4 linked regions of the Homo sapiens genome follow. The protein of the gene in region 2 purifies or fractionates together with the protein of the main gene of each other region. This does not show direct contact. Each region holds a gene or a part of one and is shown on either strand. Other genes may lie near its edges. The genes, in order: IVNS1ABP, PRKCG, PCK2 and TCF25.

Region 1 (7,801 bases), on a different chromosome or scaffold from region 2:
TGGCTACGGTCACCATGGCTACTCCACTAGTATGCAGATTACACAAACGCCTCAAGGTAACCTCCAGTGTGCTTCTTGAGCTTCTTGACATATTACTCTGGCAGGATCCGGAGGTAAAGAAAAATACATGTCATGGTGGTAAAAATTAAAAAACAAAAACAAAAAACCAAAATCAAATACAAAATCTTCCAATACTGGCTGAAGAGTCGTTGGCTTGATTGGCTTGAAAGAAATCTTCATTTTTTTCATAGCTTCTATCATATAACAGTAAGAAAAAAAGCACTAGTACAATATATACTCTTAAAGAATATACATATTTACAATAAAATACTGAATATAGTTTACACCTTTGCAGATAAGTGGTCTGGTTTGCATAAACATATTTCCTTCCTGTAAGCAATGTCAAGAAAAACAAAGAAAAAACAAATGCAAAAATTCAAGCAAGCTGTAGAGTCATCTCCATTGAGACAGATGCAAATACATGGCAAATGCATCTGACTTTCAAGTGGGAATCATAGAATTTAAAGATAATCTGTTAGCCCTTTTAGACCATAATGATGACAGTGTTTCTGCAGGCCTAACAGATTTGGTAAGCCCTCATAAAGGAACTCCGAAAGGTTTAAGTGGAGAGAGAAACTCAAGGTTACTCCACTGCTCCACCTGCGTGTTTTCAATTCCCACCATTTCTCCATCAATTTTATCTTGTGTATTTTTTTTAAAAGTAGCCCAAGTTAAGTGAGTGACTATATGTATGAACAACACCATTGAAAAACACACAGCTTTAAAGACAAGAATCCTGTAAAGGAGTAAACACCATTAAATCATCATCGTTCTCTGCCCACAGCGGATTTTTCTTAGGAGAACTGGGGCAGGACTGCTGCTTCTTTACGTGTCAATACACTTGAGGTTTCTTCTTGTTTCTTCAGTCTTGGGTATCCTAGTTTTGTTAATAAACCTATGGGGAGATAAATCAATGGGGAGGAACAACCATTAGAAGCTTTTACCTACTTGTCAAATTTAAAGCAAAAACCTGTGAAGAAAAATTAAGAATCTACAGAAAATTTCAGTACCACTTCCCATTTCTAAAGCAAATTACATGCTACTTTAAAGAAAGTTAACAGCACATAATAAGCAAAGAAATAAAAAAAGAAAAGCAGAAGACCAAACTGAACAGTTCATTCAGCTCACCTGGACACCCCCCCTGTTTCTCAGCTTAGGGGTACCTATAGCAAAATTTAAATTCTTTAGGGTCATGGTTATAAAATAAAAGTGAAAGGGAATCCTTCATGTTATAGCAAAATAATTTTTAAAAATGGTTGAATCCCATTTACTTTAAAACTAACCTCTTCCATCAGCTCTTCCAGACTGTCTCCATTCTCCCAGATGCTACGCTGCACCCAGTTGATTACCTTTGTATATAATTTGCCATTGCTGGGCAAGCAAACATTATCTTCAAGCATTACCTCCAACTAGAATTGGGAAAAACAATGACATGGATCAGTGTTGGGCTCCTAGTTCTCAGCTTAATTCCCAATTTCATAATAAAGTTGTCACAGATGCACAATTCATTCCATACATTTACTCTAATTTGTAAGGAACCAGGAATTTGTAAGGAACCAGGAATTTGTAAGGAATTTGATTACTGAATCAAAAACAAAGTAAACAAACTGGTAGGGAGAAACCCATTACGCTGCTAAGAATAACAATATAATTTCAATGTATTATTTCATAATCATTACTCACTTGCTTGAAACACAGACCAAGATTCCACGCCTGGAACTAGATAGTATATATCTGTTTATAGACTTTACTCCTTACCTTTAGCCTTGGAAGCTTAAGAAACTCCTCCTCTTCAGAAATTTGTAACAAATGCTCCTGAATATAAGCATCAACCTTATTCAACAAACGGGAGTCTCCCATACAACTTGCAAAATTTCGGTAAGAGATGCAGCTGGTAACATCCATTCTAGACAGTAAATAATCACCACAAACCTTGGAAAAGAAATATATGAGTGCCAACACTTACATATCTTTTATTCAACAAATATTTAATGTTCAGTGTGGTAAAGACTATGTGAAGATACAAAGAATCAAAAATCACTGTCTTAATACAACAAATGTTAATAGTGGTAATAACACGTATACAAATGATAAACATCTAATTATGCCATACAGATATGTAAGTTTTAGTTTAAGGAGAGGTACAACAAATTGAAATGCTATGTAAGTTCACATAAGTATTTTCAAGTAGAATAATTTGGTAAGGCTTCATGAAACGCAGTATCTGAACTGGGCTCTACAGGAGAGATGATGTTGATGTTGAATGCAGACAGAAGTAGAGAAGATGCTGCAAACAATTTAATTTGGTTGGAGAAAAGATAACTAGGAAATAGTTTTGGAAAGACAGCAACTATATAAGGGAAAATCTAGAAACTAAATGCAGGGATATGTACTGTAAATTAAGGAAGGATTTTTGAACAAAGGAGTGGTATTAGAAGAAGGGCTAGCAAATCAAACTTTTTCTTAAAGGGCCAGATAGTAAAAGCATTTTAGGCTTGTAGGCCATTCTGTTTGTCACAACTGCTCAATTCCGTCACTGTAGCTGGAAAGCAGTGTAGACCATATGTAAATGAACACACATGGCTGTGTTTGAATAAAACTTTATAAAAATAGGCAGCTGGCCAGTAGGCCTTAAGTTTACTGACCCCCATGCATTAGGGGATTAAATGCCTGTTTTCCAAAAGTACTTTTTACTGGCATTAAATTCTAGAAGGAATACTTTTAGAGAGCACAGGAAGTTTAGGAGAACACAGAATTGAGGATATAAGTTATGTGATTAACTCTTAAGAAAAATATTAATTTTAATTCATGCTATCAAAGGCTGACATAGCCACCCTACCAGAGAAGATTGCTGAAAGGGTCAGACTTCAGCCCAAATTATCTGAGAAGAAGTGTGATCTTGCTACATTATTATAGCCAAACAGTTAAAATAACATATTGACTACTCTGAGGGAAAAAAGGGACATGTTCAAGTCCTTGAAACTAACAAGATGTTTTATGACAAATTCAGCATTGCAATCACACAAAATAAGACTCCATAAATGATTTTATTTACTTCTGATACTCTACCTGCTTTACTCGATCCATCTTCAGCTTTTTTGCTGCAGAATAAACATCTTTTACCAATTCCTTATCTGCTTTCAACCTATTTAAAAAAAAAGTTACTTATGATACCAAAGCCTTAAAACACACTTAATTTAAATATATGTAGCAAGACTTGGAATTTTCTGAAGATATTCCCTAATTATATGGTTTACTTCAAATGTACTTACTGAGCAGTGTAGGCATAATTCAACAAGACTTCAACAGCTTCTGGATTGAGATCATCAAATTTAACGTGAGAAATTCCATGAGGATCACTATCACTATTAAAGATTTCAAATAAATAGGGACTGCAGCAAGCTAGCACTGCTCTGTGTGCTAACATTTCATGGCCACAGACCTGAAATTATGAAGAATTATAATTATAAGTATTGTGGATTATGTGCTTCTCTAGCTAATTACTATATCAGATTCCTTTATCTTACATTTCTCAGTATTCTTTTAAAAAATCATTTCATTAAATGCCTATGAAAAAGAAATAAGCAAATCTAAGAACTTATGGCTTTTAGTAATAAAAAATTCTATAAATTTTGAATTAAGTTTTAAATACCTGAAGTCGAACATCACAGAACTGGCCACTTTTCCTCAGGGCATTTAATTTGGCAACAGAAGACTCAATAAAATTTTCATCCTCAAACATCAAATATCCATTGGGAATCATTTTTCCTTATAAATTTGGCTAGATGATGAAAAGAAAGCTGAGTTATTTTACTTGCAACTGATGGTTTTAAAAATATAATGCTAAAGAGTAATACAGTCTCTTTATTCTCAAATTCCATCCTATAAACAACACATAAAAATTTCATCACACAAAAACTTAGCTGAAACAACACCTGTGTTGAATGTCCAAGTCTTTGTTCCCTAATACTTTGGTCATAAGACTTTTAAAGGATTCAAACAGTAGCAGCTATCTCGACAATTTTGGCCAGGTTCCCATGCCCATTAAGCAAATTCATTCTGAAGGGAAGGGAAGGGAAGGAAACGAAACTCCATCCTGCCCAAACCCATATAATAAGTAATCTAAAAGCCTGAAAGGGTGAAATAGCCAGTACATATAGGTTTCCTTGGATTTGGGCTCCTGTCATTCCTTTACCCACAAATGAGAAAAACTGTTACTTATCCTAATCCTAGCCTTTTTCAGTTGTCTTAAAGGGCCCCCAATTTGCTTCTAGTCTTCAAAATTATATATAATCAAGATTTATATGCAGAAAATTGCCTAATGTCTTCCTCCCTTGCCTAGTACACAAACTTAAAAAGTCTGATTAGTCTTGTCACTGTATCTACGAAATTATTTTTATAAATGTTTTGAAACATATACAGTGATTTAAAAAGATGAACTTATATTCTGTTCCTTTCTTTCATATATTCTAAATCACTTATCTCATCAGATTATATAAATATAAATGGGAACTTACAACTTTTTTGCATTTTACCATTACTTATAAACAACTGACTAATGACTACACAAAATGCATAATTAAAAAACAGTGATAGGCTGGGCGCTATGGCTCACACCTGTAATCCCAGCACTTTGGGAGGCCGAGACAGGTGGATCATTTGAGGTCAGGAGTTCAAGACCAGCCTGGCCAACATGGTGAAACCCTATCTCTACTAAAAATACAAAATTTAGCCAGGCATGGTGGCGGGCGCCTGTAATCCCAGCTACTTGTGGGGGCTGAGGCAGGAGAATTGCTTGGGAGGCAAAGGTTGCAGTCAGCTGAGATTGTGCCACTGTACTCCAGCCTGGGCAACAGAGAGACTCCATCTTAAAAAAATAAAATAAAATAAAGAACAGTAATAGGGAGGCCAAGGCAAGAAGATTGCTTGAGCCCAGGAGTTTGAGACCAGTCTGGGAAACATAGTGAAATCCTGTCTCTACAAAAAATGTAAAAATTAGGCAGTCATGGTGGTGGCGCACACCTGTAGTCCCAGTTACTAGGAAGGCTGAGGCAGGAGAAGCACTTGAGCCCAGGAGTTCCAGGCTGCAGTGAGCTATGATCCCACCACTGCACTCCAGCCTGGACAACAGAGATCTTATCTCTTTAAGGAAAAAAAAAAAGGCAGTAAGAAATTTTAATTTGAAGTTACTGATTTATTTAAAGTCAAAATATAGAAAAGAAAAATATGATGTTTTTTATACTCAAATGATTACTGACTTCTCTGCCTTTAAAAAAAGAGTATGAAAGGTTTACTGTACTCGACATCCGTCTTCAGAAAAACAATGTGTCTTAATACTGGACTAGGCAGAGAACATTCACTTACCTACTCTGTTGGTGGCAAATGTATTTCTGGGAACTCTTAAGTAATCCAAGGACAAAGGAGTGTTAAAAGGTGCACTTCGTCAGGGTATGAAGACAGGTGGTTGAAATGAAGGCAGGTGTGTCTTAAGCTCTAATGGTGATTCCAAAACTATCAGGCTTGAAAATGATGTAATCAAGTCCTTAAAAGCTATAGACACGAATTTCTTCTGTGATAATGATGCATCATAATCTATAACAATGATAAATTTAAGTTAGATATTCAGAATAATCAAAGACTGTCATTGATCTAGGTAGAGCAGATCATGTAAAACAAGTCCTGATCTTCAAGAGATTTGACATAAATGGCAAAAATATTCCCATTACATAAAAAAAGAACACAAATGCAATTCCACATAAACATTTTTCATTTAACTTGCAACAACCCAAGTGATTAAAAAAAAAAAAAAAAGTCCTTTCCCAAAGGGCAGGGGCTAATGACCTATGTTTATGAGAGGTATAAAAGCACAAGACTACAAAACAAATGTCAATACTGTTTAATTCTAATATTCTTTATTATTAATTTCCAACTAATATGCAAACATGAGATCTGTTTTGAGCCAGCAAGCAACCTTAGGCATTATTCCCAAGCATATATACTATGTTACTGTTCCTCAAAATGAACTCTGCACTTCCCAGGCTCTGTTAACTTTGTTCAAGTTCTTCTCTCTACCTGGAAGGCCCTTAACCCAACCTCTGCCAGAGGAAATCTTACAGCCATAGAGCCTCTGCCAAATGCTCCCAGTTGGGAAGCAGTTTCTCCTCATCCTCCACATTTAGAACCCTATCTGAGGGGTATTTATGATCTTCCAGCTGGTCTGTTTCATGCTGTATTTATATTCATGCTGTATTTATATATACTTGTTTATCTTCCTTGACTCATGGGCAAACCTTCTGTCTTGTTCATCTTTTGTATCCATCCCATCTCCTCTCTACCAGGACTAGCCTAAAAACTTGAACATAAAGATGAGTAATTTGTTGGAATAAACTAAACAGAAGGGAAAATACTGATGCCTGTGCTTTGTATAATCATTTTTCTCATACACAGTAATAAACTACCAATGGAATCATTCTGGTTCAAACCTAATCTTCAAGGTAATCAGTCCTCCTACCTATTCTCCCTCCCTCATTTTCACATCATCAATTACTAGTGTCAAATTCTGATGGTACTTATTTTGTAATCACCTGAACTGCTATTACACCACTATTAACTCTGGAAACCAGAACTAAGGAATAACTTACCTGAAATACGTGCAAATATATTCATTTTTATGGATATCTTAAGATTATTTGCCTTATACATCAATACAACAATTCTAAATCTAACAATTACGTCAAAGTGAATAATCACTTACCACAGGACTCCACTGCAGGCTGGTCCAGTTCGAATTCAACAAACCTACTATGTTTAGTTCAACATGTGTCCTAACAGGTCTCTCTGTAACAGGTTTCATTTCAAGGAAACCCAATAATGCCAATTCGGGTTGGGATTGTTGTGAATGCTTACCCTTGCATCAAAACTATATCACAGCATTAGGTAATATTGATTTCCTCTGCTCTACCTTTTATCTAGGTTAGTTAATTTGGCTTTTCTCTAAGAAACTAGTTCTAACAAATGTTTTCCAAATATACATAATTCTTTCTACACAGAGAGAACACACTATCCTAAAGAAACCTTCAAACATTTTCAGCCAAGACCTGGCTCAAACTAAGAAAATTTTCATATATATATGATTTATACTGGCATGGTCAATTCACAGGCATAGTTGGCAACTCCTAACTTCAGTTTCATAAGCTGCTCTTAAAATAAGAGGAAGGAGTCCCCATGCAAATTGTTATATTAAAATGCATCCTCTGAAAAGCCAAAAACATTATAATATGAAGGTACTATTTTAAACTTTGACCAGTTTTACTCACTTTTTACTTGTAAACTTGATCTAACAAAAAATAAAAATGGTATCCACTTACTATATTTGACAAATTGAATGATCTACCTAAAATTTATTTTGGAAAAAAATGGTTAAAATTACTGCAGCCCTTGGAGAAAACACTGGAGAATTTTTGGGGCAATTTGCATCAGACAAATTTGTACAATATTATTATGAGTTTTGCAGTAAAATGAATCCTGTATTTAGTGCTTGATTTTTATTTAGTTTTTACTCTAATTCCATGACAGTACCTGATTTTTAGTACATCAAGGTCATAATATGAACCTCATCTCTTTAATATCTACTGATCAGAGTACAAAGCTACTTGATTTTAAAAGCCAGCCCAAATCTAGATGACATTTAAGTTAATGCAAACTTACTTTATTCAATTATTGTCCTCATACACTATATACC
Region 2 (7,801 bases):
CCGAAGCGGGTGGATCACCTGAGGTCAGGAGTTCCAGACCAGCCTGGCCAACGTGGCGAAACCCGGTCTCTACTAAAAATACAAAAATCAGCTGAGTGTGGTGGCGGGAGCCTGTAATCCCAGCTACTCAGGAGGCTGAGACGGGAGAATTGCTTAAACCCGGGAGGCGGAGGTTGCAGTGAGCCGAGATCGCGCCATTGCACTCCAGCCTGGGGGACAAGAGCTAACTCCTTCTCAAAAAAAAAAAAAGGAATCAAAGTTGCTCATACATATATTTTAATCCAGGTGGCTGGCCACTCTCATTCGGAGCCCCTGGAAGTAAAGTCACGCCCTCTTAAAATCTTGCAGGTTCTGACTCTCTGCCCCTAAGTCGCAATCCTAAGGAAATAATGTCCTGTTTCTGATGTGTCCTTCAGTCAGAATCCAAAAGTGATGACCCCGTCACTCGGAGCCCAATTCTGGGCAGGCCCACTAGGAAGGCACCCTCCTCCACTGTGCCCCTTTGCTGAAAATTCCAGAGCACTGGCTACAGCCACTCAAGACCAAGCTCCCCAGGGAAACAGGCATCTGGCCACTCCCCCCAAGAGCCCATCCACCTGGCCACGCCCCCAAGGAACTCAACCGCTTCACGACACCTCCGCAGGACCCATTCACCTGGCCAGGCCATGCCACCGAGGAACTCACCGCCTGGCCACGCCCCCGAGGAGCTCATCCGCCCGACCACGCCCTCCGAAGAATCTACCTGCCTGGATACGCTCATTCATAATCTCGTCTGCCTGGCCTCGCCCCCAAGGAGCCAATCTGCCTGGCCACGCCTATTAATGATCCCATCGCCTGACAAAGCCCGCCCCTCTAAACCACCCCCCCAAAGATTTCATCCGCCTGACCACGCCCCGCGAAGAGCCCCTCTGCCTGGCCACGCCCCCGATGAGTCCCTCCACCTGGCCACGCCCCCGAGGAGCCCCTCCACCCGGCCTCGCCTCCGTTGAGCCCCTCCGCCTGGCCACGCCCCCCGATGAGTCCCTTCGCCTGGCCACGCCCCCCAAGGACCCCCCCCCGGCCACGCCCCCTGAGGAGACAATCCGCCTGGCCTCGCCCACTCAGAGAGCACAAAGTTCTCTTGCCTCGCCCTAAACTCAGAATCCCAACGCAGATGTCCAGAACTGGATAAGGCAGGGCCCGGAGGACAGCCTCCGCCCCCTCCATCCTTACCGGGGTCTGGAAGGTGGAGTGGAGCTGGGTGAGGAAGTGGGGCCGGCCGCCAGGACCCCGGCCCCCCAGCGCCAGCACACGTTTCTCCACCAGCGTGCAGTCCACATCGTCGTCCTGGACGATCACGTCCTTTTTCAAGATCTTGATGGCGTAGAGCTCATCAGAGCCCCTGCGCTCGGCCAGCATCACCTATGCGCACAGTTCCAAAAGGGCCAGTCCATGTTGGGAACCCAGTGGTACAGGACCTGCCCCCTCCCTAAGGGACGCAGGGAAACGGGATCCCAGGCCCTTCCTCCATCTCTTAAGGGACTGACAGCCCTGACTTGCCGCCCGTCCCCTCAAGGAGAGTGTCCACATCTGTAAACCTCTCCTCTCCAGGAACCTGAACGGCCCAACCTAACCATATTTGAAGATGCAGGAGCCCAGTCTCTTCCCACCCCCACTTCCTCCCTAAGAACCAGAAATCTGACCTTCCCACAGACATCCTCCCTTTCCCCCAGAACCCCAGGAATCCAACCTTCCCAAAACTGCCTTTTCCTAGAACCATGAGGAAGCTGAAGTCGGAGATGTGCAGGCGTCCTGGACTCGCCCCGAAGAAGCAGCGCTTGGGGTCGGTGGGACTAGGGGAAGGGGAGGGGATGGGAGAGGAAGAGGGGCCCATCCGCACCCGCTGTGGAAAGGAGAAAGAAAGAGCCAGAGGCAGTTAGACCTTACACAGCGATAAGGAAATGCTCCCAAGAGACACAGCACCCAAGAAAGGAAAGGATGAGAATCGCTAGACAGAGGAAAATGGCCACCCTCCTACCCTGTCCTTGGCTTAATTTTCTCTGACTCCCCATAGCCTGGAGGGTTTATTTATTATTCAACAAACACTTAGCTCTTTTTTTCTTCTTTTTTTTTTTTAGATAGCTTATCATATGCTGTTTCCAGAAAACCCTGCTATCGTTTCCATTTTACAGAAGAGGAGACTAGCACAGAGACGTTAAGTAACTTGCCCCAAGTCACACAGCAGGTAAAGGACAGAGCCAGAAATGAAACCCAAGCAGTCCAGCTCTAGAATCTGGTTGCTCTTAGCCTCTAAGCCGGAATTCCCTAGAGGGTTTGGTAAAACAGATTGCTGGGTCCCACTGCCAGATTTTCTAACTCTATAAATCTGGGGTGGGACCTGAGAATCGTTATGTGTAAAAAGCTTCTGGGTGACATGGGTGCTGCCAGTCCAGGGAGCACACCTGGCTTTCAGCTAGGGTCCCTTCTCTACCTTTTCCTGCCTCGGCCCCCCAGGGAGGGGGCCCAAGACTAAGCTGCTGTCACAGCTTCCACACTTGTCCCTCTACATGGACGGCTGCCCTTTCTAATGCATTCTCTACTCAGCAGGCACAGGAGCCAATTTAAAAATAAATAAACCAGGTCATGTCTCCCCTATGCTTGTAAACCCTTTAACTGCTCCCTCTGTGTTAAGATTTTATTCCACATGACTTGCAGAGCCAGGCTGAGACTGACACTGCAGGTTGTTCTTCTCTCTCCCAGGCTCCATGGTCCAGCCACCCTGGCCTGACACTCATTGTCCTCCCTCCCACCTCAGGGCCTCTGGATGTGCCGTTAGGTCTTCCTGTAAAGCTCTCCCCTCCCCTTCCCTCCTAGTTGTCTCCCAAACACCCTTTAGACCTTGACTCAAGCATCACTTCATAGAGGCCTCGCCTGACTTTTTAAACTGGGTCAGATGCCTCTCTTACCACCCCTTGGTCACCATGGACAGCACCTTCCTGGCACTTTTATTCTTAGTAATTTACATCTATCTGTGTGACTATCTGCTTTCTGCCTGTGAGCTCCCTAAGGCAGGGGTCTGCTTTGTTCGCTAAGACACAGTAACACTGCCTACCTCATTGAGGCTACATAAATATTTGTTGAGGGCTGGGTGCGGTGGCTCATGCCTGTAATCCCAGCACTTTGGGAGGCCGAGGTGGGCAGATCACCTGAGGTCAGGAGTTCAAGACCAGCCTGGCCAACATGGCGAAGCCCCATCTCTACTAGCAATATAAAAATTAGTAGGACATGGTGGCACATGCCTGTAGTCCCAGCTACTTGGGAGGCCAAGGCAGGAGAATCGCTTGAACCCGGGAGGCAGAGGTTGCAGTGAGCTGAGATCGCTCCACTGCATTCCAGCCTGGGCGACAGAGCGAGACTGTGTCTCAAATAGATAAATACATAATAATAATAATAATAATAATAATAATAATAATAATAATAATAATCAGGGCTGTTTCTGTTTGCTGTGTTGTTAGCCCCGTACCTAGCTCAAGGCTTGGCACAGAGTTGGTGTTCATTGGTAATATTAAGTGGTGCCTGCTGAACTGTGGGAGAGTGCTGTGAGCCACAACAGGCACACACACCACCCTACACTCCCTGCCTCTAGGCCTTTGCCCACCATCTGCCCTGCTGGGTTTCTTGGGTTTGTACGGGAGGATCATCCCTGCTGATCTCAAAAGACTCTACCTCTTTGGCTCAGAATGTCCTCCCGCTGGTACCCTTGTCTCCTGCAGAGCCCATTCTCTCTTTTTTTTTTTTTTCTGAGATAGAGTCTCGCTCTGTCACCCAGGCTGTAGTGCAGTGGCACGATCTCGGCTCATTGCAAGCTCCACCTCCCAGGTTCATGCCATTCTCCTGCCTCAGCCTCCTGAGTACCTGGGACTACAGGCACCCACCACCACGCCCAGCTAATTTTTTTGTATTTTTAGTAGAGACGGGGATTCACCGTGTTAGCCAGGATGGTCTCGATCTCCTGACCTCGTGATCCACCCGCCTTGGCCTCCCAAAGTGCTGGGATGACAGGCGTGAGCCACTGCGCCCGGCCGCAGAGCCCATTCTCAAACTTAACTTTGCAAAAGGATCACCTGAGGAATTAATTTAGTAGGCAGACATTTGAGGCATCAGAGAGATCGTCACTGAGTAGGTCTGCAGAAAGGCTGGGGAATGTGCTTTTAAAAGCAAGCACTCTAGGAATTCTGATGCAGGTGAACCCCCACACACAACATTAAAAACTCTGGTGAAAGTTTCTGTAAGAGTCCAGTAAAGACTATAACATGTTGTTGCTGTTGTTGAATCTTGAAGATTCTTGTCTTCTTTTTTTTTTTTTTTTTTTTTGAGACAGAGTCTCCCTCTGTCATCCAGGCTGGAGTGCAGTGGAGCGATCTGGGCTCACTGCAGCCTCTACTTCCCGGAATCCAGCAATTCTCCTGCCTCAGCCTTCCGAGTAGCTGGGATTACAGGCGCCTCCACCATGCCCAGCTGATTTTTGTATTTTTTAGTAGAGATGGGGTTTTGCCACGCTGGCCAGGCTGGTCTCAAACTCCTGACCTCAGGTGATCCGCCCGCCTTACTAGGATCACAGACATGAGGCATCGTGCCCAGTCTATCATATGCTTATATATTTTGTTTAATGTCTTCCTCCCGGTGTAAATCCCATAAGGAAAGGAACTTTTTTGTTTGTTTGTTTGTTCTTTCCCTGCTTTCTCTATATCCCCAGTGAGTAGAGCCACGCCTGGCACACAAAGATGCTCTGTAAAGTATTTTTTGAAAGGGTAAATGAGGGAGAGAGCATTACTTCCTCCTGCCTGAAAATCTGGTCTCTCCTTTGGGAAATCCCGCCCTTCTACCAGGTCTCACCTCTCTAGGAAGCTTTCTCTGACTCAGGCTGTGCCAGGGACGCCCCAGTGCCTGAGGCTGTCTCCATTACAGCAGCATTGCTCCTCGTTGTGAATGTCTGGGTTTGTAACTTTGTCCTCCACTAGAAGAAGAGCTCCACCAGGGAATGGCCTGATTCTATTCCCAGAACAGGGCCTGGCTTATGACACCCTAGAAAATGGGTATTCGTCTGGGCGTGGTCGCTCACGCCTCTAATCTCAGCGCTTTGGGAGGCCAAGGCGGGTGGATCACTTGAGGTCAGGAGTTCGAGACCAGCCTGGCCAACATGTCGAAACCCCATCTCTACTAAAAATACAAAAATTAGCCAGGTGTGGTGGTGCGCTCCTGTAATCCCAACTACTCAGGAGGCTGAGGCAGGAGAATCACTTGAATCTGGGAGGCAGAGGTTGCAGTGAGCTGAGACTGCATCACTGCACTCCAACCTGGGTGACAAAAGGAGATTCTGTCTCAAAAAAAAAAAGAAAGAAAGAAAGAAAGAAAAAGAAGGATATTCAGTGAGTGAATGAATGAATGGAGAGATTAAGATGATCATGCTTGATAGATTTTTTAAAACTCAAGAATCGGCTGGGTGTGGTGGCTCACGCCTGTAATCCCAGCACTTTGGGAGGCTGAGGCGGGTGGATCACCAGGTCAGGAGATCGAGACCATCCTGGCTAACACGGTGAAACCCCATCTCTACTAAAAATACAAAAAATTAGCCGGGCATGGTGGTGGGCGCCTGTAGTCCCAGCTACTCAGGAGGCTGATGCAGGAGAATGGCGTGAACCCAGGAGGCGGAGCTTGCAGTGAGCCGAGATCGCACCACTGCACTCCAGCCTGGGCGTCACAGCGAGACTCCGTCTCAAAAAAAAAATAAAAAACTCAAGAATCGGTCGGGCGCAGTGGCTCATGCCTGTAATCCCAGCACTTTGGGAGGCCAAGGCAGGCGGATCACCTGAGTTTGGGAGTTTGAGATCAGCCTGGCCAACATGGCGAAATCCCATCTCTACTAAAAATAAAAAAAAAATTAGCTGGGTGTGGTGGCGGTCACCTGTAATCCCAGCTACTCAGGAGGCTGAGGCAAGAGAATTGCTTGAACCCGGGAGCTGGAGGTTGCAGTGAGGCGAGATTGTGCCATTGCACTCCAGCCTGGGCGACAGAAATAAAAATAAAAATAAAAATAAAAATAAATTAAAAAATTTTAAAAAACCTCAAGAATCAATTCAGGCGTCACCTCCTCAGGGAAGTCCTCCCTGACCACCCTCCCCCAGGCTGGATTAGTGCCTCCGTTAGGCCTCTTCAGTGCCCTGGGCTACCTCTAATTTAGCACATCTTCCTGTATTTTAAGTATCTGTGACTGTGTCCCTACCTTGGAGAGTTGCTTGAGGGTCAGATTCATCTCTGGATCCTGGATTATTCAGCAAGCACAAGACAGGCCTAGCACAAATGTGTGCTCAACTCATGTGTGGGGAATTGAAGACAGAAGTCAGAGGAGGAATAAGAAATCAGAGAAGTAGGCAAAAACTGCCTCCATTCAACGCCCTGGTTCTACTCACCTCATACAATTCCAGGGGGTAGTTACAAGCCTGGGAGAAAAGAAAGAGAGAGTCAGGGTCCCAAGAGATGCAGGGGATCGCCCTAGAACAGGGGCTGGTGGCCCCTAGTACCCTCAAGCCATGGCGATAGATAGGAACTATAATTCCCATCAGACCCTGGGGCTCGAGTCCCCTAGAAGAGCAGAGGAGGGAGTCCTAGGGTCTTCTGGGAACTGTAGTCCCAGGACCAGCGGGCACTCAGGGGTGGAAGGAAAGGCCAGCTCTGAACCGTGGGAGGCTGGGCTGGGCTCCCTTGAGGAAGCCAGGGTCTGGGTACCTCAAACTTCTGGAGGAGGCTGCAGTTGTCAGCATCGGCCACCGGCACATTGTAATACTCGCCCTCCTCCTGGTTCAGTAACTTGTACCTGACATACAGACGGAGACCAGAGGCGGGCAGCGGGGATGGGGCACCCATGGGAGAGGCAAAGACATTGGAAGGGAGGAAAGAGACACAGAGAGACGGACACAGAGATGGAAGAGAGAAAGAGTGAGATAAAAAGAGAGGGAGAGGGAGAAAGGGAGGGGAGAAGAAGAGAAGAATAGAGAGAGAGGGGTGTGTGCGTGTGTGTGCGTGTGTGTGTGTGTGTGTGTGTGTGTGTGCGCATGCTGGGAGGCAGAGGGAAGGACAGTGGCCTGGAGGAGAGAGACCACACACAGATGGAGATGGTAATATTGCGCTCCATCCCCAGGCCCCAGCCCTGCTCCTCACCAGCCATCCACGGGCGCCTTGAGCAGCTCCGAGACGCCAAAGGACATGGCCCCCATGAAGTCGTTGCGGGAGGTCCGGTCCCAGTCCCACACCTCCACGCTGAGCCGGCGCTCCACATCCCCTGGCTTCAGGTTGCTGCAGGAAGGTGGGGTGGATGGGGTGCAGAGCCGAGCTCATGGCTCCCCTCGGTTCCCCATCCTTGGTGCTGGAGGTGGGGGCAAACCCAGCCAGCTGGGGCTCCTCTCCTGCTTTGTCGGTCTCCGACCTCTGACCTTCCCAGCCGGGCTCTCTCTCCAGCTAGGGCTTTGGGGCCTGAAGTAAACCTAGAGAGCTCTTCCTCTCCCTTCCTCCTGCATTCTCCGCCCCTTCCCATCTCTGTCTCTTGTCTCTCGAGATCTCTCTCTCTGAGTCTCTGTACCCTTCTCTCCTCTCTGGGTCTCTATCACTCTGTCTTCCTGTCAACTGATCTCTGTCTCCCTGCCATCCCCCATCTTCTCCCCTCCCTCTCCATCTGTGTCTCTCTTTGGGTTTCTGCCTCTTCTGAGACTCTCTCTTCTCTCTCTCATCTCTGTCTAACTCTAAAGTTGGGGGCTTCAATGGAGAC
Region 3 (7,801 bases), on a different chromosome or scaffold from region 2:
GGACTGCCAGGAGGCACAGAAGTCATGAACGTTTGCAGTTTCCAGTCCCAGGCAAAATCTCAGTTCATGTCCCAACTCCACCAGTCACTGGTTTTGTGATCTGGCTAAGTTGCTCAACTTCCCTAAGCTTTAGTTTCCACATCAGTTGAATGAGGGTAGTTGTGATAGTACCTATCTCATGAGATTGTTGGAGGATTAAATAGTGCATAAAAAGGGTTTATCACACTGACAAATACACAGTAAATTCTCAATAATAAATACAGGCTGGATTTTTTTTTAATGAAAGGAAAAGGAAGGACTTTTGAACATTCTTACAGAAGGTATTGGGCTCCAAGCACTATCCATAAAGTTTGGCCCATTAGGAAAAGAGGAAAGCTGCCTCCTCTGCTCCAACTCTCCTCCTGCCACTTGGCTCCCACTGTCCCCTGTATAATAACCACTGTCTAAAGGTCAGTATTGTTACCGTCACCCTTCCCCTGTCCCTCCAAAGCATTCACCCCAATCCTTCCTACAAACAAAATCAGGTCAGTGCTTGAGTCTTTCCCAGAAGCTAGTTTCTGAATCCTGTCATTACCCTGGGCGCCTGGGAGTCCCACCTCTCCCTCAGCCCTGCACTCTGGACCTTCAGTATTCTTTCCATGGCCTTCTGCAGTCAGGCAGTCCAGACACCAAGAGGCAGGGGCAAAGAAGAGCATGGGAGGGGAGGCTGGCCTTGTAGTCACTGAAGCCTATATTCAGGTTTGCCAGGCTGGCCTAGCAGTCACCCTCCTTGCTTCATCTAATCACCCTTTATTTTTACTAACACCATCATTAAGCCCCCCTCAGCCTTCCCACCCAACTGAGAAATCCAAGAAACTTTCATCTTTCCCCACAGGCTAGTTCCCCAACCCTTTCATCATCTCCAGATTTGGGGGCATAACTAGGGCATCTTGTCCCCAGCTTCAATTCCCAGAATAATACCCTGTGTTAGGATTCTGCACTGGGTGCTGAAGAAGGATGGCTCTTATCTGCAATGGCGGGCAGAAGCTGGCGGATGGGAGAGGGTGGGGATTTTGGCCCCGTGGCTTCCCCACTCCCCAGGTCTGACCAGCAACCTCCAGCAGAGAAGGCACCATGTCCACTCAGGGGCCACACAGTGGTGCTTCATACATGTGCCACTGACTTAGTCCCAACCCCCCTCCAGGACACCTGAAGGTGCCAAGTGTGACCTGGGCTCCTGAGGTTATCCCTACCCATGTGATATCCCTATCTCTATTTTTCCAGCCCTATCACTTCATCAGGGTCTAAGCAGGGCAGGGAAATCACCAACATGTTGTTAGCTTTAAAATCAATTCCTTGCAGGGCACAGTGACTCACATCTGTAATCCCAGCACTTTGGGAGGCCGAGGCAGTTGGATCACCTGAGGTCAGGAGTTCGAGACCAGCCTGGCAACATGGCAAAACCCCGTCTCCAATAAAATACAAAAATTAGCCAGGCATGGTGGCTCATGCCTGTAATCCCAGCTACTCAGGAGGCAGGAAAATTGCTTGATCCCAGGAGGCAGAGGTTGCAGTGAGACAAGATCATGCCACTGCACTCCAGCCTGGTGACAGAGTGAGACTCCGTCTCATAACTAAATTAATTAAGTAAATAAAATCAGGCCAGGCGCAGTGGCTCATGCCTGTAATCCTACTACTTTGGGAGGCCAAGGTGGGCAGATCAGTTAAGGTCAGGAGTTTGAAACCAGCCTGGCCAACATGGTGAAACCCCATCTCTATTAAAAATACAAAAAAATCAGCCAGGCATGGTGGTGGGTGCCTGTAATCCCAGCTACTGGGGAGGCTGAGGTAGGAGAATTGTTTGAACCTGGGAGGCGGAGGTTGCAGTAAGCCAAGATTGCACCACTGCACTACAGCCTGGGCAACAGAGCAAGACTCTGCCTCAAAAATAAAAAGATAAAATAAATTCCTATTTGCATTTGGATAACTTAGGAGAACCTGTCTTCCCCGGTTTGCTGACGGAAAGTCAATTGTCTGAAGTACTAAGCTGACATTCTCAGTTTTTGCTTTAGGTTTGGGTATTCATTTAAATAATAATCTCACAAATAATGAAATAGTTTCTGGGGGAAAAATTATTATAACCTTATGCCCATATCTAACCCCATTCCCTTGAGCCCTGGTCAGTGCCAAGTGCCAGTAGCTTGGCACAAACATTAGTGCCCTGCCAAACCCCAATTCCTCTCCCACTCTTTTCTCACATAGCTCAGCTGGCCGCACCTTCATGGCTAAACAACCTGAGCTCTTGGAGATGCCCTGGCTCCCCTCTCTCTGCTCCTTATCACACAAGGTTCTAGGCAGCTGATGAGGCAAAAAAAAAAAAAGAACCCTGCAAGAATGTGTGCCCATGTATGTGTGTGTTGGGGGTCGACATGACCTTGGAAATAATAGTGTTTGTATTTCCTCTGCCAGGTGACAAGGAGCCCTGTGCACATCCCAACTCTCGATTTTGTGCCCCGGCTCGCCAGTGCCCCATCATGGACCCAGCCTGGGAGGCCCCAGAGGGTGTCCCCATTGACGCCATCATCTTTGGTGGCCGCAGACCCAAAGGTAAACAACATATGAGCTCCATGTTCTTGGCAAAAGGGCTATCTCTGTATTAGGGCCTACCTCCCTCCCTCTGATCCAGAGCCTCAGCCTGGATCTCACCTTTCTCCAGAGTTCTCCCCTGGTGAATGCAAACTTGGGAGGAGGCAAAGGGTCTGAAAATGGGATAGCCGAGGTCTTAGGAGAGAGAGTACCAGTCAAGCTCACCAGAAGGGCTGGAGTTAGGGTCCAAAGAAAAGGGCTGCCTGTGACTCTGTTCATTGGTGATCTAGGGGTACCCCTGGTATACGAGGCCTTCAACTGGCGTCATGGGGTGTTTGTGGGCAGCGCCATGCGCTCTGAGTCCACTGCTGCAGCAGAACACAAAGGTGAGCACCCTCACCATTCCTCCCTCTCCTGTGTGTGCACACAGCACGTCCTCTCTCCCTTCCTGAGCCAGACCTTCCTTTTGTCCACCCCTGGAGTCTGATATGGCCCCACCTCTTCCCACTTCTATCTTTTCCCCATCCCTGAAGATATTCAGAACCATAAGCCTTTCACAGCTTCCTCCAACTGGATGCAGGGTGCCCTTCCCTACCCCAGTGAGAAGGAAGATTCCTTACCCATCTTGCTTCCCCCCCAGGGAAGATCATCATGCACGACCCATTTGCCATGCGGCCCTTTTTTGGCTACAACTTCGGGCACTACCTGGAACACTGGCTGAGCATGGAAGGGCGCAAGGGGGCCCAGCTGCCCCGTATCTTCCATGTCAACTGGTTCCGGCGTGACGAGGCAGGGCACTTCCTGTGGCCAGGCTTTGGGGAGAATGCTCGGGTGCTAGACTGGATCTGCCGGCGGTTAGAGGGGGAGGACAGTGCCCGAGAGACACCCATTGGGCTGGTGCCAAAGGAAGGAGCCTTGGATCTCAGCGGCCTCAGAGCTATAGACACCACTCAGCTGTTCTCCCTCCCCAAGGACTTCTGGGAACAGGAGGTTCGTGACATTCGGAGCTACCTGACAGAGCAGGTCAACCAGGATCTGCCCAAAGAGGTGTTGGCTGAGCTTGAGGCCCTGGAGAGACGTGTGCACAAAATGTGACCTGAGGCCCTAGTCTAGCAAGAGGACATAGCACCCTCATCTGGGAATAGGGAAGGCACCTTGCAGAAAATATGAGCAATTTGATATTAACTAACATCTTCAATGTGCCATAGACCTTCCCACAAAGACTGTCCAATAATAAGAGATGCTTATCTATTTTACACAAGATTTGTGCTGTTTTCATTTCCCACCTATCTTCACAGGCTTCCCTCTAACACCTGTCTCACAATCATCTTCTTCCAGCCCCTAGAAGAAGCACAGCCTGGCACAATCAAAGATCTGTTTTACAGGTAGCTCTAGCACTGGGTCACAGACATAGGAATTGCTGGGAGAAGGCACTATCCACTCTATGTCCTGAGTTCTTAAAAAAAAAAAAATGGTGAGGCTGGGTGTGGTGGTTCACGCCTGTAATCCCAGCACTTTGGGAGGCTGAGGCGCACAGATCACGAGGTCAGGGGATTGAGACCATCCGGGCTAACACGGTGAAACCCTATCGCTACTAAAAATACAAAAAAAAAAAAAAAATTAACCGGGAGTGGTGGCGGGCGCCTGTAGTCCTAGCTATTTGGGAAGCTGAGGCAGGAGAATGGTGTGAACCCAGGAGGCAGAGGTTGCAGTAAACCAAGGTCGTGCCACTGCACACTCCAGTCTGGGCAACAGAGCGAAACTCCGTCACAAAAAAAAAAAACAAAACAAAACAAAACAAAAAAAAAACTGAGGGCCTCAGCAAGCTGCTCAGTACAGCCCCCAAGCCTAAAATTCCTGATCTCCCACTTAGATTGCAGAAGCCTCTACAACTCCATTCTCCAGTGAAGTGGCTTCATTGTCAGTTCTCGAATTTGTTCTTCCCCCTGCCTGACCTGGCACTGGGAGCTGCATAGTATTCATGGAAGCATATTCAATATTAGGACAGCTAACAACACTTCTGTGGCACCTTCTTTATGCCAGGCACTGCTGAGACCAGCTCTGTCAAGGAGACCCTAACCCAGCAGTGCTAGAGGAATTAAAAACACGCACACAGAAATATAGAGGTGTGGAGTGGGAAATCAGGGGTCTCACAGCCTTCAGAGCTGACAGCCTCGAACAGAGATTTACCCACGTGTTTATTGACAGCAAGTCAGTGATAAGCATTGTTTTTATAGATTAACTAAAAGTATTCCTTACGGGAAACAAAGGGATGGGCCAAAATGAAGAGATGGGCTCTGGCTGGTTATCTGCAGCAGGAGCATGTCCTTAAGGCACAGATCGCTCATGCTATTGTTTATGGTTTAAGAATACCTTTAAGCGGTTTTCTGCCCAGGGTGGGCCATGTGTTCCTTGCCCTCATTCCGGTGAACCCACAACCTTCCAGTGTGGGTGTCATGGCCATCACAAACATGTCACAGTGCTGCAGAGATTTTGCTTATGGCCAGTTTTGGGGCCAGTTTATGGCCAGATTTTGGGGGCCTATTCCCAACAAGGCAGTGTTCTAAGCACATACCTAACAACCCTTTGGGGGAATTACCATTTTACAGATGAAGTAACAAAGGCACAGAGAGGTCAAGTAATTTGTCCAAAGCTTCACAGTTAGTAAACAATAGAGCTAAGGGTTAAAGTGATAAAACTGCAAAGACATGTCTTTCATAGTAGTATAGACATCTACAACTGCAAGGACCTTAGAAGTCACCTATTCCACCGGGCGCAGTGGCTCATGCCTATAATCCCAGCACTTTGGGAGGCCAAGGAGGGCGGATCACCTGAGGTTGGGAGTTCAAGACCAGCGTGGCCAACACGGTGAAACCCCTTCTCTACAAAAATACAAAAATTAGCTGGGCATGATGGCAGGTGCCTGTAATCCCAGCTATTTAGGACAATCACTTGAACTCAGGAGGCAGAGGTTGCAGTAAGCCTAGATCATGCCATTGCACTCCAGCCTGGGGGACAGAGCAAGACTCTGTCTCAAAAAAATAAAAAAATAAAAAGTCACCTATTCCGTGTTTCTCAAACTTAAAAGTGCCTTTGAATCACCTGGAGATCTTGTTAAAATGCAGATTGTCACTCAGCAAGTCTGTAGTAGCCTCAAGATTTTGTTTTCCTTACAAGCTCCTGGGTAATGCTGATGCTGCCGGTCTGCGAACTACAGTTTAGAGTAGCCTAAATTCATCTGAAATAAACTTTGGAGAGTAATCAGGAAAACAGTGCAATGATCTCACATGAGTCAGGGGCATCAGCTTAGGATAACTTCTGTGCAATCTGGATCAGGCTGAGAGAATGTATAACCTAAGGTGGGTAGTGTGGTAGTCTTTACCCAGAAAAAGGGAACAAACTTCAACAAATAAAATGGAATTATTGGGAACTCCCTCAAAGGAAAAAACTAGAAGAGGAAACACCAAGTGTTCTCATAGGAAATGCCAGTGACCAGCCAGAATGTGTAAAAATCTAAAGGTCAGAGTGGAACAGAGGTTAGAACAAAGTTAGCAGTGGAGTATATTGTACTTTAAAACACAGCCAGCCAGGCGCGGTGGCTCACACTTTGGGAGGCCGAGGTGGGCAGATCACCTGAGGTCAGCAGTTTGAGACCAGCTAGACCAACATGGTGAAACCCCATCTCTACTAAAAATACAAAAATTAGCCAGGCATGGTGGCCCATGCCTGTAATTCCAGCTACTCAGGAAGCTGAGGCGGGAGAATCACTTGAAACTGGGAGGCTGAGGTTGCAGTGAGCTGAGATCACACCACTGCACTCCAGCCTAGGCGACAGAGTGAGACTCTGTCTCAAAAAAAAAATAAATAAATAAATAAATTTAAAAATTTAAAAATAATAATAAAACACAGCCAAATCCTTAGCTTCATAAATAGCATATGATAACTGAATACCGTCAAAAGCAACATAGCACAGGTATTAAACACATAGTAGACTTGAGCCAGAGGTGCCTCTCAGTTGCTTCATCTGTAAAATGGAAATGCCTACACTTTACAGTCTTGTTGGGAAGATTAAAAGAGTCAGTGGAATAAAGCACTCAGAACTATGCCTGGCACCGAATAACCATTTAATACATGTTAGCTATCATCACCTTTCCACTTTATAATGATTAGAGTAGGCCCTGTAAGCGTATATTACATATTGCTGACTCTACAGTTTAAAAGGAACATGAGCAATGTAAATAAAATCTAGGAGAGAAAGAAAATAGATTTAAAAATAAATCCCTCCAGCTAAGAGGCAGGGAACTGGGGTTCCAGGCACCTTTCTGGTATCTTCTAAATGCACAGGGACAAGAAAGTGTTAGCCTTAAAAATTATTTTTATTAATTAGAATAAAATGGGGCTGCATGCCCTTCAGCTCCAGATAACTGATAAAATATAGTTAACACATTATAATCTTTTTATTTTAAAATAAAACACAGATACAGAAGACCATCTAAAACAAAGTTATGGCTGAATAAACTATCATAAAGTGAACACCTTTGGAACACTACCCAGGGAAAGAAACAGAACTTTGCAGACACCAACCCAGCCCCGCCCCGCCCCGACCCTGTTGCCCATCTCTATCATAGCCACCCCTTCCTGCCATAGTGGATACTATGGTGAGTAATAATTACTTCTTTGCATTTTTTTATAGTTTGATCACCTAAATGTAGATCCTTAGACACTATAGTTTAGCTTTGCTCCCATTTAAAATTTTTTTCATATGTCTTTCAAGTCTCTATCAGTCTACAGATTCCCCCTCCATTCCTTTCTTTTCCTTCAATTTACCCATTGACGAATCCAGACTCAGATGTTCAGTGTCTAAATGCATTAACTCACTAGGGATTGCAAAACAGCCATATTTGAGTTGTCATAACATTGCAATAATTTTATAAAATGGACACTTCTATTTCATTACCCTATGGTATTGTTTATATAGAAACAGCAGGATAACTGCTTAATTCTTTATCTTTATTTATCATCTTCAAAAAAATGATTTGATTTCCTATTATCCTTTGAAAAGGTAACCAGTTAGTTACACACAAACATTATGAACTCATGGATTTAAACATACTTAGTGTTTATTAAATTGACCTTATTAAATGTTCAAATTGTCCCACATTTGGCTATGGAAGCTAGGCCAAAAAGAGCTGAGTCCTTTTGACATGATACATACTCCTTGCTTCCCGGCTATCTG
Region 4 (7,801 bases), on a different chromosome or scaffold from region 2:
CCGTGTACACAGACAGGCTCCTGGGCCTATCATGTGTGCTGTCTTTGTAAACAGTCAGGATCCCAGGACTATCACGCGTGCTGTCCATGTACACAGGCAGGCTCCTGAGCCCATCACACGTGCTGTCCGTGTACACAGATGGGCTTCAGAGCCTGTCACACGTGTTGTCCATGTACACAGACAGGCTCCCGGGCCTATCATGTGTGCTGTCTGTGTACACAGGCAGGCTCCTGAGCCCATCACGCGTGCTGTCCGTGTACACAGGCTCCTTTCCATTGAAGTTCAGCTTGGCATAGAGCTTTTTATGAATTCGATTTGTCAAACACCTCAAAATAAGAATTTTTTTTCTTAGGAAGTCAGCATGAGTTAATAAAAGTAAATTGGGTGTTGGCCGGGCGCGGTGGCTCACGCCTGTAATCCCAGCACTTTGGGAGTCTGAGGCGGGCAGATCACCTGAGGTCAGGAGTTCGAGACCAGCCTGGCCAACATGATGAAACCCCATCTGTACTAAAAATACAAAAATTAGCCTGGCATGGCGGCACATGCCTGTAGTCCCAGTTACTCGGGAGGCTGAGGCAGGAGAATCACTTGAATCCGGGAGGCGGAGGTTGCAGTGAGCCAAGATCATGCGATTGCTCTCCAGCCTGGGCAACAGAGCAAGACTCCATCTCAAAAAAAGAAAAAAAAAAAAGTAAATTGGGTGTTGTGGCGTGTGCCTGTAGTCCCAGCTCCTGGGGAGGCTGAGGCAGGAGGATCCCTTGACCACAGGAATTTGAGGCCAGCCTGGGCAACACAGTGAGACCCTATCTCTAAAAACAGACAAGTAAACCAGCACCCAGCTTCACTAAGAGACATCATCATTAGTTGAATGTTGGAGATGGTGTAGATCCAATTTACCAGTGACCACCCACAGGTTAGAAACATTTCAACAATAGGCTTTGTTTCAGCTTTCTTCCTTTACTGCAGGGTGCAAGGCAGCCGGCCCATGCCTAGGCCCCAGCTTCGCCAGCAAAGGCCAGGCAGAAGGAGGCATCACCATGAGAATCACCATCATGGTGCTGCTGGGATGGGACAAACCTCGTTTTGGTGGAGTGTCAGTGTTTTCAAGTTAGGGGCTCTGTTTACATAACACGTCTATACTGCCATGGATTTTCTCAACGGGCGTAAGTTGCTCCTGACTTGTCTCAGCGGGCGTTTAAGATGCTCCTGAATCGTATCCTTGTCATGTGGGAGCCTCCATTGGAGAGAAAGCCGACTGACCGGCAAGCACAGACCTGCCCTGTGCTTTCTTCTCTTCAGCAACCGCAGCCGGGGTGTCTGTCTTCCCAGGTGCAGCCGAGTCTCAATTCTGTTTCAGAAACTATCTCAGGGCTATGGGGCTTGGAGCTGATTGTGTTTTCTGAGGTTTGTGGTTTTCAAGATGTTTTAAATTAAACAGGCAGTTTTATTTATTTTTGAACCTTAGTGCATCCGATTGGATCCATCAGAATCTCCTAGTTCATAAAGAATTGTTGATGCTGGTCTCTGTTAGCTTTTTTTTTAAAAAATTTAGAGCTAGAGTCTTGCTCTGTTGCCCACGCTGGAGTGCCGTTGTGTGATCATGGCTCACTCCAGGTTCCAGATTCCAGGACTGCTGGGCTCACGCAGTCCTCCTCAGCCGCCTGAGTAGCTGGGACTCAAGAGGTGTGTGCCACCACACCCTGCTAATTTTTTGTAGAGATGGGGTCTCACTGTATTGCCTAGGCTGGTTTCAAGCTCCTGGGCTCAGATGATCCTCCTGCCTCAGCCTCCCAAAGCGCTGGGATTATAGGCATGAGCCACCACACCCAATCTGTTAGCCTCTTTTTTTTTTGTTTTCTTGAAATGGAATCTCGCCTTATCACCCAGGCTGGAGTGCAGTGGCATAATCTTGGCTCGCTGCAACCTCTGCCTCCCGGATTCAAGCAATTCTCCTGCCTCGGCCTCCCGAGTAGCTGGGATTACAGGCACGCGCCACTGCACCTGGCCGATTTTTTTATTTTCAGTAGAGACGGGATTTCACCATGTTGGTCAGGCTGGTCTTGAATTGCTGACCTCGTGATCCACCCACCTCGGCCTCCCAAAGTGCTGGGATTACAGGGGTGCACCGCCACCGTGCCCGGTCAGCCTCTCACTAGCTGAGGAGCCAGAACTTTTCCTGTTCTTACCCTTCTCCCACTGCCTGTCTCCCCTCCAATCTGTATGTGAATGTATGTTGTGAGGTTTTATCCATTTAATATTATACTCCTAAGATTCATCCATATTGTGTGTTCAGTGGTGGTTCATTCATTCATTCATTCTCACTGCTATAAAAAGGTTCCAGACTTGGCGTGGTGGCTCACGCCTGTAACTCCAGCTCTTTGGGAGGCTGAGGCAGGAGGATCGCTTGAGGTCAGGAGCTCAAGACCAGCCTGGGCAATGTGTTGAGACCCCCATCTCTACAAAAAAATTTAAAAAATTAGCCAGGCATGGTAGCTCACGCCTGTAGTTCCAGCTACTTGGGAGGCTGAGGCAGGAGGATGCTTGAACCCAGGAGGCCAAGGCTGCAGTGAGCCAAGATCACACTGCTGCACTGCAGCCTGGATGACAGAGCGAGACTCTGTCTCAAAAAGAGAGAGAGAAGGTTTCATCGTATGAATTATTTTTATCGTATGTCATTTTGTTTTTCTATTTTGAGATGGAGTCTTGCTCTGTTGCCCAGGCTGGAGGGTAGTGGTGCGATCTTGACTCACAGCAACCTCTGCCTCCCGGGTTCAAACGATTATACCACTTCAGCCTCCCAAGTAGCTGGGATTACAGGCTCCTGCCACTGTGCCTGGCTAATTTTTGTGTTTTTAGTAGAGACAGGGTTTCGCCATGTTGGCCAGGCTGGTCTTGAACTCCTGACCTCAAGTGATCCGCCTGCATCAACCTCCCAAAGTGCTGGGATCACAGGCGCGAGCACCTCGCCTGGCCTATCATTTTCATTAGGAAAAGTTTGTAGGTTGATGGGTCCTTGGTGCCTTTTTTTCCTGCCTGCTGCTGGAGAGGAGCTGAGGCTTGAGGAGAAAGGAGGAAGAAGGAACTTTAATGCATTGGCTGAATATATATATTTAACGTTTTGTCCTGCAGATGGTCCTCTGTAAATGGAGTAAATTACAATATTTGAGGAGTCTTCCTTACCTCATCTCTGAAGGCAGAGATACCCCATAGCCTCGGGGCCCCGGCTTTCTGTAGAGCTGCTGACAAAGTCCCCCTGAGCCAGAGCTGAGTCACTGCTGTGTCCAACAGTCTCGGGTTCTTGCATCTTTCCCGTCCAGCGTCTCGCACTGACCCTGGGGGTCCCCAACGCAAGCCCGTTCACATCTCACTATTCATATCTCAGCATGAGCGTTCACACTGTAAGTAACGCCCTGGCTCTTCTCCAACCTGTTTTTCCAGATAAACATTGACGATCTTGAGGATGACCCTGTGGTGAACGGGGAGAGGTCTGGCTGTGCGCTCACAGACGCTGTGGCACCAGGGAACAAAGGAAGGGGTCAGCGTGGAAACACAGAGAGCAAGACGGATGGAGATGACACCGAGACAGTGCCCTCAGAGCAGGTGGGGGGCTGAGTGGTGAGGAGGTGGCATCAGACGGGAGAGTTCCAAGGCACCCAGCCACGTGTATCCTGTGCTGTGATTTTCCTTGGAGGTGTAATTTTCCGAGTTCCATTTTGGTTACCTGCTAGTTGCCCCCAAATTTACTTGGGAACCTTGATGAGATTTGCATGAAATGAGTGAAGGTCGCAGGCCTTTCTCCTGCATCTCAGGAGAGTCTGCGCCTGCCCAGCAGTGTATGTAACCGCACACGTGTGTCCCTCCTAGCCAACCGCGCACGTGTGTCCCTCCTAGCCGACCGCGCACGTGTGTGCCTCCTAGCCGACCGCGCACGTGTGTCCTTCCTAACTGTGCCCCGAACGTTTGCTTGGCTGGGTTGTGGATCTGGGTGCTGGTGTAAGTGAACTTTGAAGAAACATGCAGGTCAGGTTAACGTGGGATGGGCAGAGATGCAGACAGCCTGCTGCTGTGCTCCACAGCACAGAAGAGGGGCCCTAAAAGGAGAGCTTGTGTTCATTTATCCAACAAGTGTTCTTGGGAGCTTGCTGGGTGCTGGGAACGTGCCTTTGCCCCCCAGGAGCCTCTGGTTGGGAGGGCAACATACATGTGAAGTGACAGGTGGGTCCTGACTTGAGGCTCAGGGTCCTGGGGGCTTCCTGAGGAGCCTTCCTACTGTCAGAAGGGGTTGGCCAGGTGCAGGCGTAGGGGACCACACATACAGGTGCGGTGTGAGGCGGCCAGGGCACAGCAAGGCCCCCGTCTTCAGGGTGGCTGCAGTGTGGCAGGGAGTGGCCGACACAGGGAGGAATGAGAGCTGGACCTGGTCAGGGTCCTGTGAGCCTGTGAGGCTGGACACAGAAGGCCCTGGGGACTGCTGTAGCACAGCCCGAGGGGCTCGGAGAGGTGGGAAGGTGCCTGCTGGAGAGAAGAGAGTGAGTTGAAGGAACTTTTGGGACACGGAGGGAGAGGTAGGGGCTGCTTAGGTGAGGGTGGAGTCACGCTTGCTGCTTTAATTCTCACTTCTTAAGATTTACTTCTCATTCTACTGATGAAAATGTGTTTCTATCATTAGTCTCATGCAAGTGGCAAACTCCGGAAGAAGAAAAAAAAACAGAAAAACAAGAAAAGCAGCACGGGAGAAGCATCGGTACGTGAGTTGGGCCTGGCTGTGCTCTGTCCCTCTGCCTGACGCCCCTCTCCCTCTGCCTGACGCCCTCTCCCTCTGCCTGACGCCCTCTCCCTCTGTCTGACGCCCTCTCCCTCTGCCTGACGCCCTCTCCCTCTGCCTGACGCCCTCTCCCTCTGCCTGACGCCCTCTCCCTCTGTCTGACGCCCTCCGTCTGCCTGACGCCCTCTCCCTCTGCCTGACGCCCCTCTCCCTCTGCCTGACGCCCCTCTCCCTCTGCCTGACGCCCTCTCCCTCTGCCTGACGCCCTCTCCCTCTGCCTGACGCCCCTCTCCCTCTGTCTGACGCCCTCTCCGTCTGCCTGACGCCCTCTCCCTCTGCCTGACGCCCTCTCCCTCTGCCTGACGCCCCTCTCCCTCTGCCTGACGCCCTCTCCCTCTGCCTGACGCCCTCTCCCTCTGCCTGACGCCCTCTCCCTCTGCCTGACGCTCTCTCCATTCTCTTCTGGCTGTTTTCCAAGGTGGTGTTGAAAGAAGCTTACTTAGTATTTTTATTCCTTCCTATTAGGAGTATAACTAAGAGATCAGGGAAAAAGAAAAGGGAAAGTTACTTTCTAAATGCTGCTTCTTGTTTTTACCCTTGTTCCTCGACTGGTTGGCGCTCTGCTCTGTGTCTCTGTGGGAATGTGTGATCTGATGGGGACATCCCTTCTAGTTCTGGTGCTCCTGTGACCCGTGGGACACTTGCTGTTTGCCCTGACATCTGTCCCATGCTTATGGGTTAATTGCATGGTGGGTACAGAACCCTCCACTGGAGCTAGTCTGTCATCAGAAAAAAATATGTTTTCATCATTGCCCTTCGTCCTCGTCTGACTGTGTCCTGAGACAAGGGTGTAGCTTTGTTGCCGTTTAGTTGGAGCCACAAGTCCCAACCCTGTTTGCCTGAGGAGGTGAGCACACCAGTGTGATGTGGAATGCCCAGTTTTTTCTAGGGTCCTTCTGGTTCTGTGATTCTGTCTATGCTGAGCGCTTCTTAGGAAACATCTCTTCTTTTTTCTAAATGTGTGGATGGTACATAGTGTTTGACTTATGCTGTCCTTTAGGAAGTAAATACAGTGTAATAGGTCTCTTTTAAGATAAATAATTTTGTTATTGTTACAATATTTAAAATAATGTCAGTGTGGTGATTAAGAGGTTGTTTTGGGGCTTTTAGGAAAACGGACTAGAAGATATCGATCGCATCCTAGAGAGGATTGAGGACAGCACTGGGTTGAACCGTCCCGGCCCAGCTCCCCTGAGCTCCAGGAAGCACGTTCTCTACGTGGAGCACAGGTGTGGCCCCCGCCCTTCTCTGCGGCTGCCCTTCTCTGCGGCTGCCCTTCTCTGCGGCTGCCCTTCTCTGCGGCTGCCCTTCTCTGTGGCTGCCACAGAGACTTCGTGGGAGGAAAAGGTTCTCTAAAAAAGGAAAAATAAAATGTACTGTCTTTATTTAAAAATCATATGAGTTTATTGGCTGGGCGTGGTGGCTCACGCCTGTAATCCCAGCACTTTGGGAGGCCAAGGCAGGCGGATCATGAGGTCAGGAGATCGAGACCATCCTGGCTAACATGGTGAAACCCCCTCTCTACTAAAAATACAAAAAATTAGCTGGGCGTGGTAGCGGGCGCCTTATAGTCCCAGCTACTCGGGAGGCTGAGGCAGGAGAATGGCGTGAACCCAATAGGTGGAGCTTGCAGTGAGTCGAGATTGTGCCACTGCACTCCAGCCTGGGCAACACTGCGAGACTGTGTCTCAAAAAAATAATAATAATAATAATATGAGTTTGTTATTACTCATTTAGGAAATAGGCCGGGCCCGGTGGCTCACGCCTGTAATCCCAGCACTTTGGGAGGCTGAGGTGGGCAGATCACCTGAGGTCAGGAGTTTGAGACCAGCCTGACCAAGATGGAGAAACCCCATCTCTAGTAAAAGTACAAAATTAGCCAGGCGTGGTGGCGCATGCCTGTAATCCCAGCTACTCAGGGGGCTGAGGCCAGAAAATTGCTTGAACCTGGGAGGCGGAGGTTGCGGTGAGCTGAGATTGTGCCACTGCACTCCAGCCTGGGCAACGAGCAAAACTCCGTCTCAAAAAAAAGAAAAAAAAAATACAAAAATTAGCTGGATGTGGTGGTGGGTGCCTGTAATCCCAGCCACTCAGGAGGCTGAGGCAGGAGAATCGCTTGAACCCGGGAGGCAGAGGTTGCAGTGAGCCGAGATCGAGATCGCGCCACTGCACTCCAGCCTGGGTGATACAGCGAGACTCTGTCTCCCGACAAAAGGAAATAGGAACAAGGAGGAAAGGAAGTCATCCATATTTCAGAGAACTTCTAGTTTTACTTCTTATGTATATTAGAGAGTTCCTTCTTTTTCTTTTTTTTAAGAGACAGGATCTCTCTATCACCCAGGCTGGAGTTCAGTGGTGTGATCATAGCCCACTGCAGCCTCGACCTCCTGGGCTCAGGAGATTCTCTTGCCTCAGTCTCCCAAAATGCTGGAATTACAGGTGTGAACCACCACGTCTGGTCAAAAAGTTCCTCCTTACCCTGTCATCCTTGGATGATTAATTCATCTCTTGGTCTTACAGATGCTTAATGAATCGCTGTCCCTACTTCAGAAATTATTGCCAGCTTAAAAAAAAAAAAGCTCCGTGGAGTCAGTTAAGACGCAGTAGTGTAGTCCCAGGGTGCGTGCACTGCCCCGACTCAGCCTCAGAAACAGACGTGTGCCACACACAGTGCCTCTTGACACAGCACTCACCGAGCGCCCTCACGGCACAGTGACGGCAGCTTCCCCATGGTGCCCGCAGTGGCGAGGCCTCAGCTGTGGTTGGGGTGGTGATTTTAGAGAAAGGCCTGGAAGCTGCCTTTCAAACCAAAAATCCGTGTTCTCTCCTTGACTATTAGGTGGCTTTCTGAAGCTTTTGGAATCGTCTTAGAACATAATTTCATGTTTTTTTTCTACAATTTTCAATTCCCCAGACACTTGAATCCAGACACAGAACTGAAAAGGTATTTTGGTGCCCGGGCAATCCTGGGGGAGC

Evidence for each region.
Region 1: the proteins of PRKCG (region 2) and IVNS1ABP purify together in Homo sapiens (affinity purification with mass spectrometry; one large-scale study listed by BioGRID and IntAct). This does not show direct contact.
Region 3: the proteins of PRKCG (region 2) and PCK2 purify together in Homo sapiens (affinity purification with mass spectrometry; one large-scale study listed by BioGRID and IntAct). This does not show direct contact.
Region 4: the proteins of PRKCG (region 2) and TCF25 purify together in Homo sapiens (affinity purification with mass spectrometry; one large-scale study listed by BioGRID and IntAct). This does not show direct contact.

What each region holds. Positions count from the first base shown.
Region 1 is NC_000001.11:185,305,671-185,313,471, forward strand, and holds part of IVNS1ABP (influenza virus NS1A-binding protein), read right to left. Parts: exon of another isoform or gene 6,815-7,801; intron 5,653-6,814; 5' UTR 5,425-5,652; intron 3,842-5,424; 5' UTR 3,824-3,841; coding exon 3,713-3,823; intron 3,503-3,712; coding exon 3,333-3,502; intron 3,206-3,332; coding exon 3,130-3,205; intron 1,993-3,129; coding exon 1,819-1,992; intron 1,470-1,818; coding exon 1,344-1,469; intron 958-1,343; exon of another isoform or gene 818-957; coding exon of another isoform or gene 815-817; intron 1-814. UniProt on the Homo sapiens protein: Involved in many cell functions, including pre-mRNA splicing, the aryl hydrocarbon receptor (AHR) pathway, F-actin organization and protein ubiquitination.
Region 2 is NC_000019.10:53,892,040-53,899,840, reverse strand, and holds part of PRKCG (protein kinase C gamma type), read right to left. Parts: intron 7,333-7,801; coding exon 7,198-7,332; intron 6,854-7,197; coding exon 6,766-6,853; intron 6,480-6,765; coding exon 6,450-6,479; intron 1,883-6,449; coding exon 1,730-1,882; intron 1,402-1,729; coding exon 1,213-1,401; intron 1-1,212. UniProt on the Homo sapiens protein: Calcium-activated, phospholipid- and diacylglycerol (DAG)-dependent serine/threonine-protein kinase that plays diverse roles in neuronal cells and eye tissues, such as regulation of the neuronal receptors GRIA4/GLUR4 and GRIN1/NMDAR1, modulation of receptors and neuronal functions related to sensitivity to opiates, pain and alcohol, mediation of synaptic function and cell survival after ischemia, and inhibition of gap junction activity after oxidative stress.
Region 3 is NC_000014.9:24,100,305-24,108,105, forward strand, and holds the end of PCK2 (phosphoenolpyruvate carboxykinase [GTP], mitochondrial isoform 1 precursor), read left to right. Parts: coding exon of another isoform or gene 1-1; exon of another isoform or gene 2-449; intron 450-2,448; coding exon 2,449-2,586; intron 2,587-2,855; coding exon 2,856-2,951; intron 2,952-3,205; coding exon 3,206-3,660; 3' UTR 3,661-3,821; downstream 3,822-7,801. UniProt on the Homo sapiens protein: Mitochondrial phosphoenolpyruvate carboxykinase that catalyzes the conversion of oxaloacetate (OAA) to phosphoenolpyruvate (PEP), the rate-limiting step in the metabolic pathway that produces glucose from lactate and other precursors derived from the citric acid cycle.
Region 4 is NC_000016.10:89,879,913-89,887,713, forward strand, and holds part of TCF25 (ribosome quality control complex subunit TCF25), read left to right. Parts: intron 1-3,438; coding exon 3,439-3,600; intron 3,601-4,669; coding exon 4,670-4,744; intron 4,745-5,935; coding exon 5,936-6,054; intron 6,055-7,739; coding exon 7,740-7,801. UniProt on the Homo sapiens protein: Component of the ribosome quality control complex (RQC), a ribosome-associated complex that mediates ubiquitination and extraction of incompletely synthesized nascent chains for proteasomal degradation.